4 separate regions of the Homo sapiens genome follow, and all the other regions are linked to region 1. Evidence: fine-mapped expression QTL. A gene starts in region 1. Each other region holds a variant in brackets. All regions are shown on one strand. Distances are between the middles of the regions.

Region 1 (2,500 bases):
AATCAGGCAAGTAACGTTAAATAGAAGCCAACTTTTAAGTTTCTCTAACACACTGCTAAATTGTAACACCAGACTGTACCACATACTCTCCAGCTGCCAGCTATTGCAGTTGCCATCCTTGTTACTATAGTGGTGAGTATCTCTGCCTGTCATGCGTGAGAGAGGGGGTCGATTCCCCGACGGGGAGGTCACGGGAAATTGTGTGAGGATTTTGTCAACCTTCAGAAGTCTCAGAAATGTCTCCTTGTTTTGGCTTTCAGCGGAAATCCGAACGCCAGCAGATCTGAATGGAATGTTCTGGATTGAAGAAAGTGGGAAATGGCCTCAATTCACAAAGTCACAACCTGATAAAAACCAGTGTGACTTTACTGCCCAGTGAACCCATCTCGTCCTCCAGCCTTTAGGAGGTAGGTTGGACTGGAGCCTGCAGTAGTTTACTCTCCACCTGAGTCCTGGTCTCCAGCTGGGAACCCACTTAGGCCATAAAGAAAAACGCACACTGTGCCTCTCCACCGGGCCTCTGGAGACGAGGCTCCTCGGGGATACAAACAGTGGGGAGAACATGAGGGACATCCCGACCGTACTCTGCGTCCTCCTTTCCCAGGTGTTGCGTTCTCTCTTGGGCTGAGTGGCGAGGTCTCTCCCGAGTCCCAGGGCCACAGTGCAATGTCACATCTCCTTTGTGGAAAGTGACTGGTAAAGGAGAGAGAACAAAACTGGAGGAATGTAAAGTCTTCAGCCACCTGGTTTAATTTATTCAAGAGTGATTAATCCTAGATGAGAAAAAGAATTGAAATGGATCGGAAAAAAATGAAAGTGCATTGGCCGGGAATCGAACCCGGGCCTCCCGCGTGGCAGGCGAGAATTCTACCACTGAACCACCAATGCTACTGTCAGCTAAAGACCTGCAGTATTGTCTCTTAAAGCTCACTATCTCTGGCCATTCACTAAGGAACCAGGCACCGTCTTAAATCGCGGTTTGGAAAATATTTTGTTCAAGATAAAACTGTTTTAAGATATACGTGTATATATCTTATATATCTGTATTCGCATGGTAACATATCTTCGGCCTTCCTGAGCCGCTGGGCTCTCAGCGGCCCTCCAAGGCAGCCCGCAGGCCCCTGTGTGCCTCAGGGATCCGACCTCCCACAGCCCCGGGGAGACCTTGCCTCTAAAGTTGCTGCTTTTGCAGCCTCTGCCACAACCGCGCGTCCTCAGAGCCAGCCCGGAGGAGCTAGAACCTTCCCCGCATTTCTTTCAGCAGCCTGAGTCAGAGGCGGGCTGGCCTGGCGTAGCCGCCCAGCCTCGCGGCTCATGCCCCGATCTGCCCGAACCTTCTCCCGGGGTCAGCGCCGCGCCGCGCCACCCGGCTGAGTCAGCCCGGGCGGGCGAGAGGCTCTCAACTGGGCGGGAAGGTGCGGGAAGGTGCGGAAAGGTTCGCGAAAGTTCGCGGCGGCGGGGGTCGGGTGAGGCGCAAAAGGATAAAAAGCCGGTGGAAGCGGAGCTGAGCAGATCCGAGCCGGGCTGGCTGCAGAGAAACCGCAGGGAGAGCCTCACTGCTGAGCGCCCCTCGACGGCGGAGCGGCAGCAGCCTCCGTGGCCTCCAGCATCCGACAAGAAGCTTCAGCCATGCAGGCCCCACGGGAGCTCGCGGTGGGCATCGACCTGGGCACCACCTACTCGTGCGTGGGCGTGTTTCAGCAGGGCCGCGTGGAGATCCTGGCCAACGACCAGGGCAACCGCACCACGCCCAGCTACGTGGCCTTCACCGACACCGAGCGGCTGGTCGGGGACGCGGCCAAGAGCCAGGCGGCCCTGAACCCCCACAACACCGTGTTCGATGCCAAGCGGCTGATCGGGCGCAAGTTCGCGGACACCACGGTGCAGTCGGACATGAAGCACTGGCCCTTCCGGGTGGTGAGCGAGGGCGGCAAGCCCAAGGTGCGCGTATGCTACCGCGGGGAGGACAAGACGTTCTACCCCGAGGAGATCTCGTCCATGGTGCTGAGCAAGATGAAGGAGACGGCCGAGGCGTACCTGGGCCAGCCCGTGAAGCACGCAGTGATCACCGTGCCCGCCTATTTCAATGACTCGCAGCGCCAGGCCACCAAGGACGCGGGGGCCATCGCGGGGCTCAACGTGTTGCGGATCATCAATGAGCCCACGGCAGCTGCCATCGCCTATGGGCTGGACCGGCGGGGCGCGGGAGAGCGCAACGTGCTCATTTTTGACCTGGGTGGGGGCACCTTCGATGTGTCGGTTCTCTCCATTGACGCTGGTGTCTTTGAGGTGAAAGCCACTGCTGGAGATACCCACCTGGGAGGAGAGGACTTCGACAACCGGCTCGTGAACCACTTCATGGAAGAATTCCGGCGGAAGCATGGGAAGGACCTGAGCGGGAACAAGCGTGCCCTGCGCAGGCTGCGCACAGCCTGTGAGCGCGCCAAGCGCACCCTGTCCTCCAGCACCCAGGCCACCCTGGAGATAGACTCCCTGTTCG
Region 2 (2,759 bases), 68 kb after region 1:
GACCTAAGCTGTTCCCTCTGCACATCATGTCCCACCAGTAAGGAAGATCTGGGTCTCAGAGCTGAGCCAAGACCTCCCGGGTCCTCTGGGGTTTTCTGTGTCTTTCAGAGTGGCTGGTGCTCCAGACCCCTCACCTGGAGTTCCAGGAGGGAGAAACCATCGTGCTGAGGTGCCACAGCTGGAAGGACAAGCCTCTGGTCAAGGTCACATTCTTCCAGAATGGAAAATCCAAGAAATTTTCCCGTTCGGATCCCAACTTCTCCATCCCACAAGCAAACCACAGTCACAGTGGTGATTACCACTGCACAGGAAACATAGGCTACACGCTGTACTCATCCAAGCCTGTGACCATCACTGTCCAAGGTATGAGGAGTCTGCCAAGATGTAGGGAGGGGAGAAGAGGGGATGGACAAGGGCTGAGGTCACATGGGCCTACATGGAGGTCTGAGAAAGGCCACAGCACAAAATTGGGCACTGGAGCAAAGAGGAGTGGTGTGGAGGCCTGGCTAAGTATTGACCAATGAGCAGGAGTAGGGGCCAGAGCTTGGAGCCCTCAGGTGATAGGTGACCAGGCTGTTGTTCCACTTTGAAATGCAGGCCCCAGACTAAGGACGGCAGCGAAGCAGAGCTCCCTCGTTGGTGCAGAGGTTCCCTAAGCTCCTGGGCATTCGTAAGAACTGAGGTTTGCCTTTATTCTTCTCATGGCTCATGTTATAGCCATTCACTCCAGAAAGCCTGGCACGTCATGGACTGTTCAAGGCTGTGCTCCATAGAGTAATGATGCCTCCAGCTATGCGAGGCTTTGGGCCCACCCTTCCCACTGCCCCTGAGGGCTAAGGGGAGCCCTTCCTTCTGCTCCTGCCTGCTCACCAGTGTGCCTTTATTAGTTCGGTGGAGAAACCTCGGTAGGCAGGAGGCATAAGTCCAGCCACAGAAACCCTGTGCAGATGAGGCTGGGGATGTAGTGAGTGCTGCAGAAGTGAGTGACTCAGACACAGAAGAGCTTCGGGTGACAAGCACTAGGACATAGCATTGGATGGGGGGGAGGTGGGACAAGGAGAGTACTGCCTGTCCTGATGTCTGTCTTCCCTAGCTCCCAGCTCTTCACCGATGGGGATCATTGTGGCTGTGGTCACTGGGATTGCTGTAGCGGCCATTGTTGCTGCTGTAGTGGCCTTGATCTACTGCAGGAAAAAGCGGATTTCAGGTTTGTAGCTCCTCCCGGTCCCTTTGGTTATCAGTTTCCACTTGGCCCAGGCCCTAACCCCAGACATTGCCAGAATCCCT[C/T]TCTTTGGGCTAGATACACATTCAGATCTAGGCCCGTATTGTATTATAGTCATTCATTCGTTTATTAGATCATTCATTTGACAAGACTTGAACAAACTAGCTTATGTGTCAGCCAATGCGTGAGACATGGTGGGTGATGCCAAGAGAAGTCCAGTCCCTGCCCTTGGGGAGTTCTCAGCATTGTGAGGAAGACAGGGTCATTATAATAAGATGGGATAAGAGCAATGATAGGGACATGAAAAGCCTAGGATAGAAGTACAGAGGAGGCTCCATAGCCCAACAAGGGCTGACGCAGTTGGAGAAGTTCTCAGGGAGAGCAGTGTAGTGTAGTGATGGAGTGCACATAGTGGGGCCAGACTGCCTGGGTTCAAATCTAGTTCTACAGCATACCAACTATATGACCCAAGTGAGTCACTCCACCTCTCTGTGCCTCAGCTGTCTCATGTGGAAAATGGGGACACTAACAGGACTTACCTCACAGGGTTGCCATGGGGATGAAAGAGGCTGATGCTCTTACACAGTGCCTGGTAGGCAGTAACAGCACACAAACAGGGCTGTTGCCATTCTGGAGGAGGTGGTGTGTGAGGGCAGCGCTTAGCTAGGGAAGGAGGACCCTCCAGGCACTGGGCCAAGGCAGGGATTGAAGCCGGGTGGGGCTCATATGGGTGTCGAAGGGGGAGAAGAGAGGGTACTGCAAGCCACCAAGAAAGAAAGAATCCCGCTAACACCTCACAAAGCACTTTTCAATTGGTTCATAGCCAACACCTCAGTTACTGATGATAAGTAAATACAGAGAAACAGAGAGAGAGAGACTGAGACACAGGGGTGTTTTTAAAAGGCAGAGCAAGCCTCAGACAGATGCCATGGCGTGGCCTTTCTGACACTCCTGGGCATCCCCATGGGTGAGCTGAATTCTGCCTCTGGACTAGCCCTTTTCCAGGCGGGAGCGGCCCCTGAGCAGGGGAGCTGGGGGTGGGAGGACAGGAAACATCTGCCAGAGGGAAGGCCTGAGCTGGTCCCATCCAACCCTGGCCCTGGTCCTTGGTCCTGAGGACTCAGGCCCCACCGCCTAATCCTACTAACCTCCTGTGTGCCCCTCCCAGCTCTCTCAGGATACCCTGAGTGCAGGGAAATGGGAGAGACCCTCCCTGAGAAACCAGGTGAGTACAGGTTGTCTCAGGGATTCAGTGATGGCTCACCAGGGCTGCCGGCTGGACTGCAGCCAGCGAGAAGGGGCTTGTGCGAGTTCAGCTGGGAGCCAGGGAGGGAGCAGCGGTGGGAGGATGGCCGGGGCTCAAATCGCTTGGTTAGCTCTGAGTCTAACTCCTGGGCCTAAAGATGACCTCTCTGGAGATGAGAAGAGAAACACCAGTCCCAGATACAGAGGAGAGGGCTGTGTCCGAATTTCTGGTACCAGGAATCTGATGATATTTCCAGAGCAAGAAATCAGAGATACTTTGGTCTTTCTGTGG
Region 3 (2,618 bases), 120 kb after region 1:
ATGCCACAGCTGATCTGACAGGAGGAGGAGCTCAGGCGGTGATGTGAGCCATGGGGATCTACTGTAAATACAGATAAAGCTTTGCTCCCCACCTGCCCCTCACTTCCTGCTGTGCAGCCCAGTTCCTAAGAGGTCACTGACAACTACAAATCTGGGGATTGGGACTTCTGCTCGAATTCAATTGAATTCCAACACTATCTAACTGGAAATAGCATCAGGTGACACAAGTGAAGGGCTCAGTCTCACAAGACACTTCTGATATTGCAGGGTGAAGCCCCAGGTTGTTTTATCTGTGCTTTTGACCAACCAGTTATAAATGGGGGTTCCCACCACCTGCATCTTGGGTTCAATTAATTTGCTAGAGTGGCTCTCAGTACTCAGGGAAACATTTACATTTATCAGTTTGTGATAAAGAATATTACAAAGGACACAAGTAAAGAGTACATAGGGCAAGACCTGTGGGAAGGGGCTTGGAGCTTCCATGCCCTCTGGTGCACTACCCTCCAAGAACCTCTCTGTGTTCGGCTCTCTGGAGGATCTCCAAACCCTGTCCTTTTGGGTTTTTATGGGAGCTTTATTACTTAGGAATGATTAATTAAATCATTGGCTATTGGTGATCAATTCAACCTTCAGCCCCTCTCCACTTCCCAGAGGGAGTTTGGAGGGTGGAGCTGAAAGCCCCAATCCTCTGACCTTGCCATGATCTTTCTTGTGCCCAGCCCCTGTTATGAAGCTACCTAAGAGCTGCCAGCCATCAGTTACCTCATTAGCACACCAAAAGACATCACTTTGGAGATTCTAAGGATTTTAGGAGTTGTATGCCAGGAAAAAGGATGAAGACTGTATAAAGGACCCTTGACATAACTAACTCCATCTTAGAAAAAGACTCCATTTTATATTTCATAGGGCATTTGGCCAACAAGATAAAATGTTCTAAGAAACAAATTAAAAATGATAAAGACTGCAGCCGACCAAATAAGGCCACAGACAAGCACACTCTTCCAACTTTCAGTTCTTATCACAGGACTCCATGACTAAAAGAGAAGGCCTTCAGCAGCTTGAAATGGCTATCTTAGCTGACACTGTCTTGCAGTCACTCATGATGATAATTTGGCATCTGCCACTGAAGGCTCTGCCACCTCAGACTCTTCTTTGCAAGACCAACGGGTAGCCAGGCCCAGACCAGGACTCCTTTGGTCTTCTTAGATCCTCATCAACAGGCTTATTAACCCTTTCTCCTGTCTCTTTTCCCTCTTGATGTTAAATAGTACTTAGTTTGTTGTGGAACGTTTAACCTATAACATTTATGTAAATGTTATAGGTAGAGAGGATTGCCATATTTGGGAGAGAGGGTCTCTCTCTCTCTCTCCCACTGGACGTGAACAAGGGCTCATTTTGTCCTAAGGTCTTGCTGGCAGCTATCCTTAAGACTTTATAACATTTAGGAGCTATACAGCTTCTCTTTCTGCTGTATTCTAATCACCAGAAGTTATAAGCCCACCCAGATTCAAGGGTAGAGGATGTAGGCCTCATTTCT[T/G]GATGGAGAGAGTGTCAAAGAATTTGCAGCCGTGTTTTAGTGCTGCCACAACTAGCTACTCTAATACACTTTAAAGATTTCTTGATTCTTCGGTGGTGTGATTAGAGTAAAATCCTGAAAAATAGAAAGGCCTGGGGGAAGGGGAGACTGTAAGATCTAGGGAAGGGAAAATTTTTTATCCTATTCTAAGAACAATCACAGGAAGAAGGGAGGTAGTTGGTACTAACTAGAAAGAAGCAAGTCAGACAGACATTATCCATTCATCCCCTCCCAGGTCCAAGAGTTTGCTTACGATTATAAACAGCAAGAAGACTGTATTTCGTGATGCTCTCTTAGCTCAGGGCTACAGAGCAATGCTGTTGTATGTAGGAAAGAATGATTTCTTGAACTTGAATCCACAGTAGGTTCTGAGTTTTTTCCAACTCAACAATTGCTATGCTCAGTTAACTCAACAAATAGAATATGATGTACTAGCCTGATATCCATCCCTCTCCCTCCCTTCTAATATAACCTTGATTCTATTCAGGAATCACCCTCATATGCAGAGGTGGATCTTGACTGATCTAAGCCACTCAGGGTGTAGCATTCCCCTGGCTTTTATTGGTTAAGTGGGAGAAGACGGAACTTTGTCCTAAATAGGGCCAATCTGGTAGAGGGGAGTGCCATGTTTGGGAGAGATGATCTCTCTCTCCCACTGTACATGAACAAGGGCTCATTTTGTCCTAGGTTCTGCTGGCAAAACCTAAGATTTTGAAGGCAGCCAGTCTGAGGTCAATGCCAAAAAATCAAGGAGGACAGAGTGGAGGGATAGAATATGGTCTTGGTGACATCACTGAGCTTCTAACGCAACCAACCCAGATTTCTTACAATTTCAAGTAAATTTCCCTGCTGTTTAAGCCAATTTAAGTCAGGGCTTGTTACCTTCATCCAAAGGCATCCTAGTGAATACCTTGGTATTTACTGAGTACCTACTAAAAGGATAAGAAACTCTTTTTCTGGAAGGAGCTAATAATGAACAGGGGAGGAAACTTGACATTTAATGAAGAAGAAAGAAATGCTGACATGGAGACCAGGAGCTCTA
Region 4 (2,759 bases), 36 kb after region 1:
TAGTGCTGCCACAACTAGCTACTCTAATACACTTTAAAGATTTCTTGATTCTTCGGTGGTGTGATTAGAGTAAAATCCTGAAAAATAGAAAGGCCTGGGGGAAGGGGAGACTGTAAGATCTAGGGAAGGGAAGATTTTTTATCCTATTCTAAGAACAATCACAGGAAGAAGGGAGGTAGTTGGTACTAACTAGAAAGAAGCAAGTCAGACAGACATTATCCATTCATCCCCTCCCAGGTCCAAGAGTTTGCTTACGATTATAAACAGCAAGAAGACTGTATTTCGTGATGCTCTCTTAGCTCAGGGCTACAGAGCAATGCTGTTGTATGTAGGAAAGAATGATTTCTTGAACTTGAATCCACAGTAGGTTCTGAGTTTTTTCCAACTCAACAATTGCTATGACTCAGTTAACTCAACAAATAGAATATGATGTACTAGCCTGATATCCATCCCTCTCCCTCCCTTCTAATATAACCTTGATTCTATTCAGGAATCACCCTCATATGCAGAGGTGGATCTTGACTGATCTAAGCCACTCAGGGTGTAGCATTCCCCTGGCTTTTATTGGTTAAGTGGGAGAAGACGGAACTTTGTCCTAAATAGGGCCAATCTGGTAGAGGGGAGTGCCATGTTTGGGAGAGATGATCTCTCTCTCCCACTGTACATGAACAAGGGCTCATTTTGTCCTAGGTTCTGCTGGCAAAACCTAAGATTTTGAAGGCAGCCAGTCTGAGGTCAATGCCAAATAGCCAAGGAGGACAGAGTGGAGGGATAGAATATGGTCTTGGTGACATCACTGAGCTTCTAACGCAACCAACCCAGATTTCTTACAATTTCAAGTAAATTTCCCTGCTGTTTAAGCCAATTTAAGTCAGGGCTTGTTACCTTCATCCAAAGGCATCCTAGTGAATACCTTGGTATTTACTGAGTACCTACTAAAAAGATAAGAAACTCTCTTTCTGGAAGGAGCTAATAATGAACAGGGGAGGAAACTTGACATTTAATGAAGAAGAAAGAAATGCTGACCTGGAGACCAGGAGCTCTAGACCTAGCTATGTCACCCAGGGTGACCACCGATTAAATTGTCTAGATCTCAGTCTCTACAATCATGAAATGAGAAAGTGGAGTGTGGACTGTATGTTTGCTAAGATCTCCTCTGGCTAAATTACTGTGTCTTAATGTCAACTAGAGGAAATATGATGCCCCCACTTT[T/A]TTTTTTTTTTTTTTTGGTAAGCATCAGTGGTCCACAAAGAATTTAACAATTGGTACCAACAGAGAGGCAAAAAATACCTTTTTTTTTTTAGACAAAGCCTCACTCTGTCGCCAAGGCTGGAGTGCAGTGGCATGATCTCGGCTCACTGCAATCTCTGCCTCCCGGGTACAAGCGATTCTCCTGTCTCAGCCTCCCAAGTAGCTGGGATTACAGGCATATGCCCCCATGCCCAGCTAATTTTTGTATTTTTAGTAGACACGGGTTTTCGCCATGTTGGCCAGGCTGGTCTCGAACTCCTGACCTCAGGTGATCCACCCATCTCGGCCTCCCAAAGTGCTGGGATTACAGGTGTGAGCCACTGGGCCTGGCCAAGAAGGAATATAATTGCCTTTTAAGAAAATATTCTGCTTGCTTTCTTTTTTAGAGATGAGGTCTCACTGTGTCAGCCAGGCTGGATTAAAAAACTCCTGGACTCAAGCAGTCCTTCTGCCTCAGCCTCCTGAGTAGCCAGCACTACTGCCTGGCTTCTACTTGCTTATTTTAATATTAATAACAAAATATAGTAAGCTCTGAGCTTTAAATACAATAGATATCAAAATTATTTAATAAAAAATATTCATGGTCCCAGCATGGTGGCTCATACCTGTAATCCCAGCACATTGGGAGGCTGAGGCAGGAGCATTGCTTGAGGCCAGGAGTTCAACACCAGTCTGGGCAACCTGGCAAAACCCCATCTCTTAAAAAAATTCAAAATAAGCCAGGCCTGGGGCTACATGCCTGTGGTCCCAGCTACTTGGGAGGCTGAGGCGGGAGGATCACTTGAGCCTGGGAAGTGGAGGTTGCAGTGAACTGTGATCGTGCAACTGCACTCCAGCCTGGGCAACAGAGCGATACCCCGTCTCAAAACAAAACAAAACAAAATATTCACCATTATGTGTCTAGTAAAGTGAAGAAAAGAAATAGGAAAGGAAACTGTCAATATAAAAGAAAAGGGAGGAGAACAGGCAGAGTTAGAGACATAAAGACACAAAATGGGATGGGACTTAGAGGAAAACCAGTGAGAGAAAACTCAGAAAGACACAGTTACTGGGACAGTAAAAAACAAAACAAAACAAAAACCCACAAAAAACTGAGAGAGACACCCAGGTTTTCAAATATGGTGTCTTAAAAATAGATAGAAAATGCATGAAGAGCAAGGCATCTACTGAGAGGTCTGGAAACAGACACACCTCGAGATACATCATACAAAGGCAGTCATGGGACAAGGAGAGAACACTTTCACAAAACCAGGAAGAGATAGACAGACAACAAGGGAAAAAAAGCACATGGGATTGAAGCAGATTTTGTGGGATGACCTTAAGCTGCACCTGTTTTCTTTGGCTGTGGTTATTAAAATAATATGACCTGTTGACATACAAGAACTTTCTAAAATTTTATGCTATAGCCAAGAGTGAGTTTTAAATGCCCTGCCTTGTGCTATCTCACATCAGAACATGCTTAGATGCCTCCCAGACTTGCAAGTTTTTAAAGTTTCAAAAAGAGAGTG

Direction of the effects. Alleles are on the strand shown, and positions count from the first base shown. SD is a standard deviation of normalised expression in the study named. Not every link is listed here.
With allele C in place of T in region 2, the expression in neutrophils of the gene that starts at base 1,511 in region 1 is lower (moderate effect, 0.65 SD a copy in BLUEPRINT).
For the expression in monocytes after interferon gamma of the gene that starts at base 1,511 in region 1, T is the low allele of the variant in region 3 and G is the other (moderate effect, 0.45 SD a copy in Fairfax 2014).

The links. PIP is the estimated chance that this variant, and not a neighbour inherited with it, causes the effect. A credible set is the group of variants that fine-mapping cannot tell apart.
Region 2: its variant is the best candidate, but not a certain one, in a credible set for the expression of HSPA6 in neutrophils (BLUEPRINT, PIP 0.57).
Region 3: its variant is the best candidate, but not a certain one, in a credible set for the expression of HSPA6 in monocytes after interferon gamma (Fairfax 2014, PIP 0.58).
Region 4: its variant is the best candidate, but not a certain one, in a credible set for the expression of HSPA6 in whole blood (INTERVAL, PIP 0.68).

Annotation. Positions count from the first base shown.
Region 1 is chr1:161,523,030-161,525,529 of GRCh38, forward strand. It overlaps HSPA6 (heat shock protein family A (Hsp70) member 6), which reads left to right and starts at 1,511. Exons shown (of 1, transcript NM_002155.5): 1 at 1,511-2,500. The coding sequence starts at 1,630. It overlaps TRG-GCC2-1 (tRNA-Gly (anticodon GCC) 2-1), which reads right to left and starts at 888; the gene lies at 818-888. It also overlaps a transcript of FCGR2A not described here and the pseudogene TRD-GTC10-1.
Region 2 is chr1:161,591,036-161,593,794 of GRCh38, forward strand. It overlaps the pseudogene FCGR2C. Among named protein-coding and RNA genes, the nearest start is that of TRL-CAA6-1, 20 kb to the right of the region's middle. RefSeq lists a silencer at 1,674-1,880. The variant C/T (reference allele first, on the strand shown) is at 1,288.
Region 3 is chr1:161,638,430-161,641,047 of GRCh38, forward strand. No RefSeq gene overlaps it. Among named protein-coding and RNA genes, the nearest start is that of FCGR3B, 8.6 kb to the left of the region's middle. RefSeq lists a silencer at 1-121. The variant T/G (reference allele first, on the strand shown) is at 1,538.
Region 4 is chr1:161,558,655-161,561,413 of GRCh38, forward strand. No RefSeq gene overlaps it. Among named protein-coding and RNA genes, the nearest start is that of FCGR3A, 10 kb to the left of the region's middle. The variant T/A (reference allele first, on the strand shown) is at 1,213.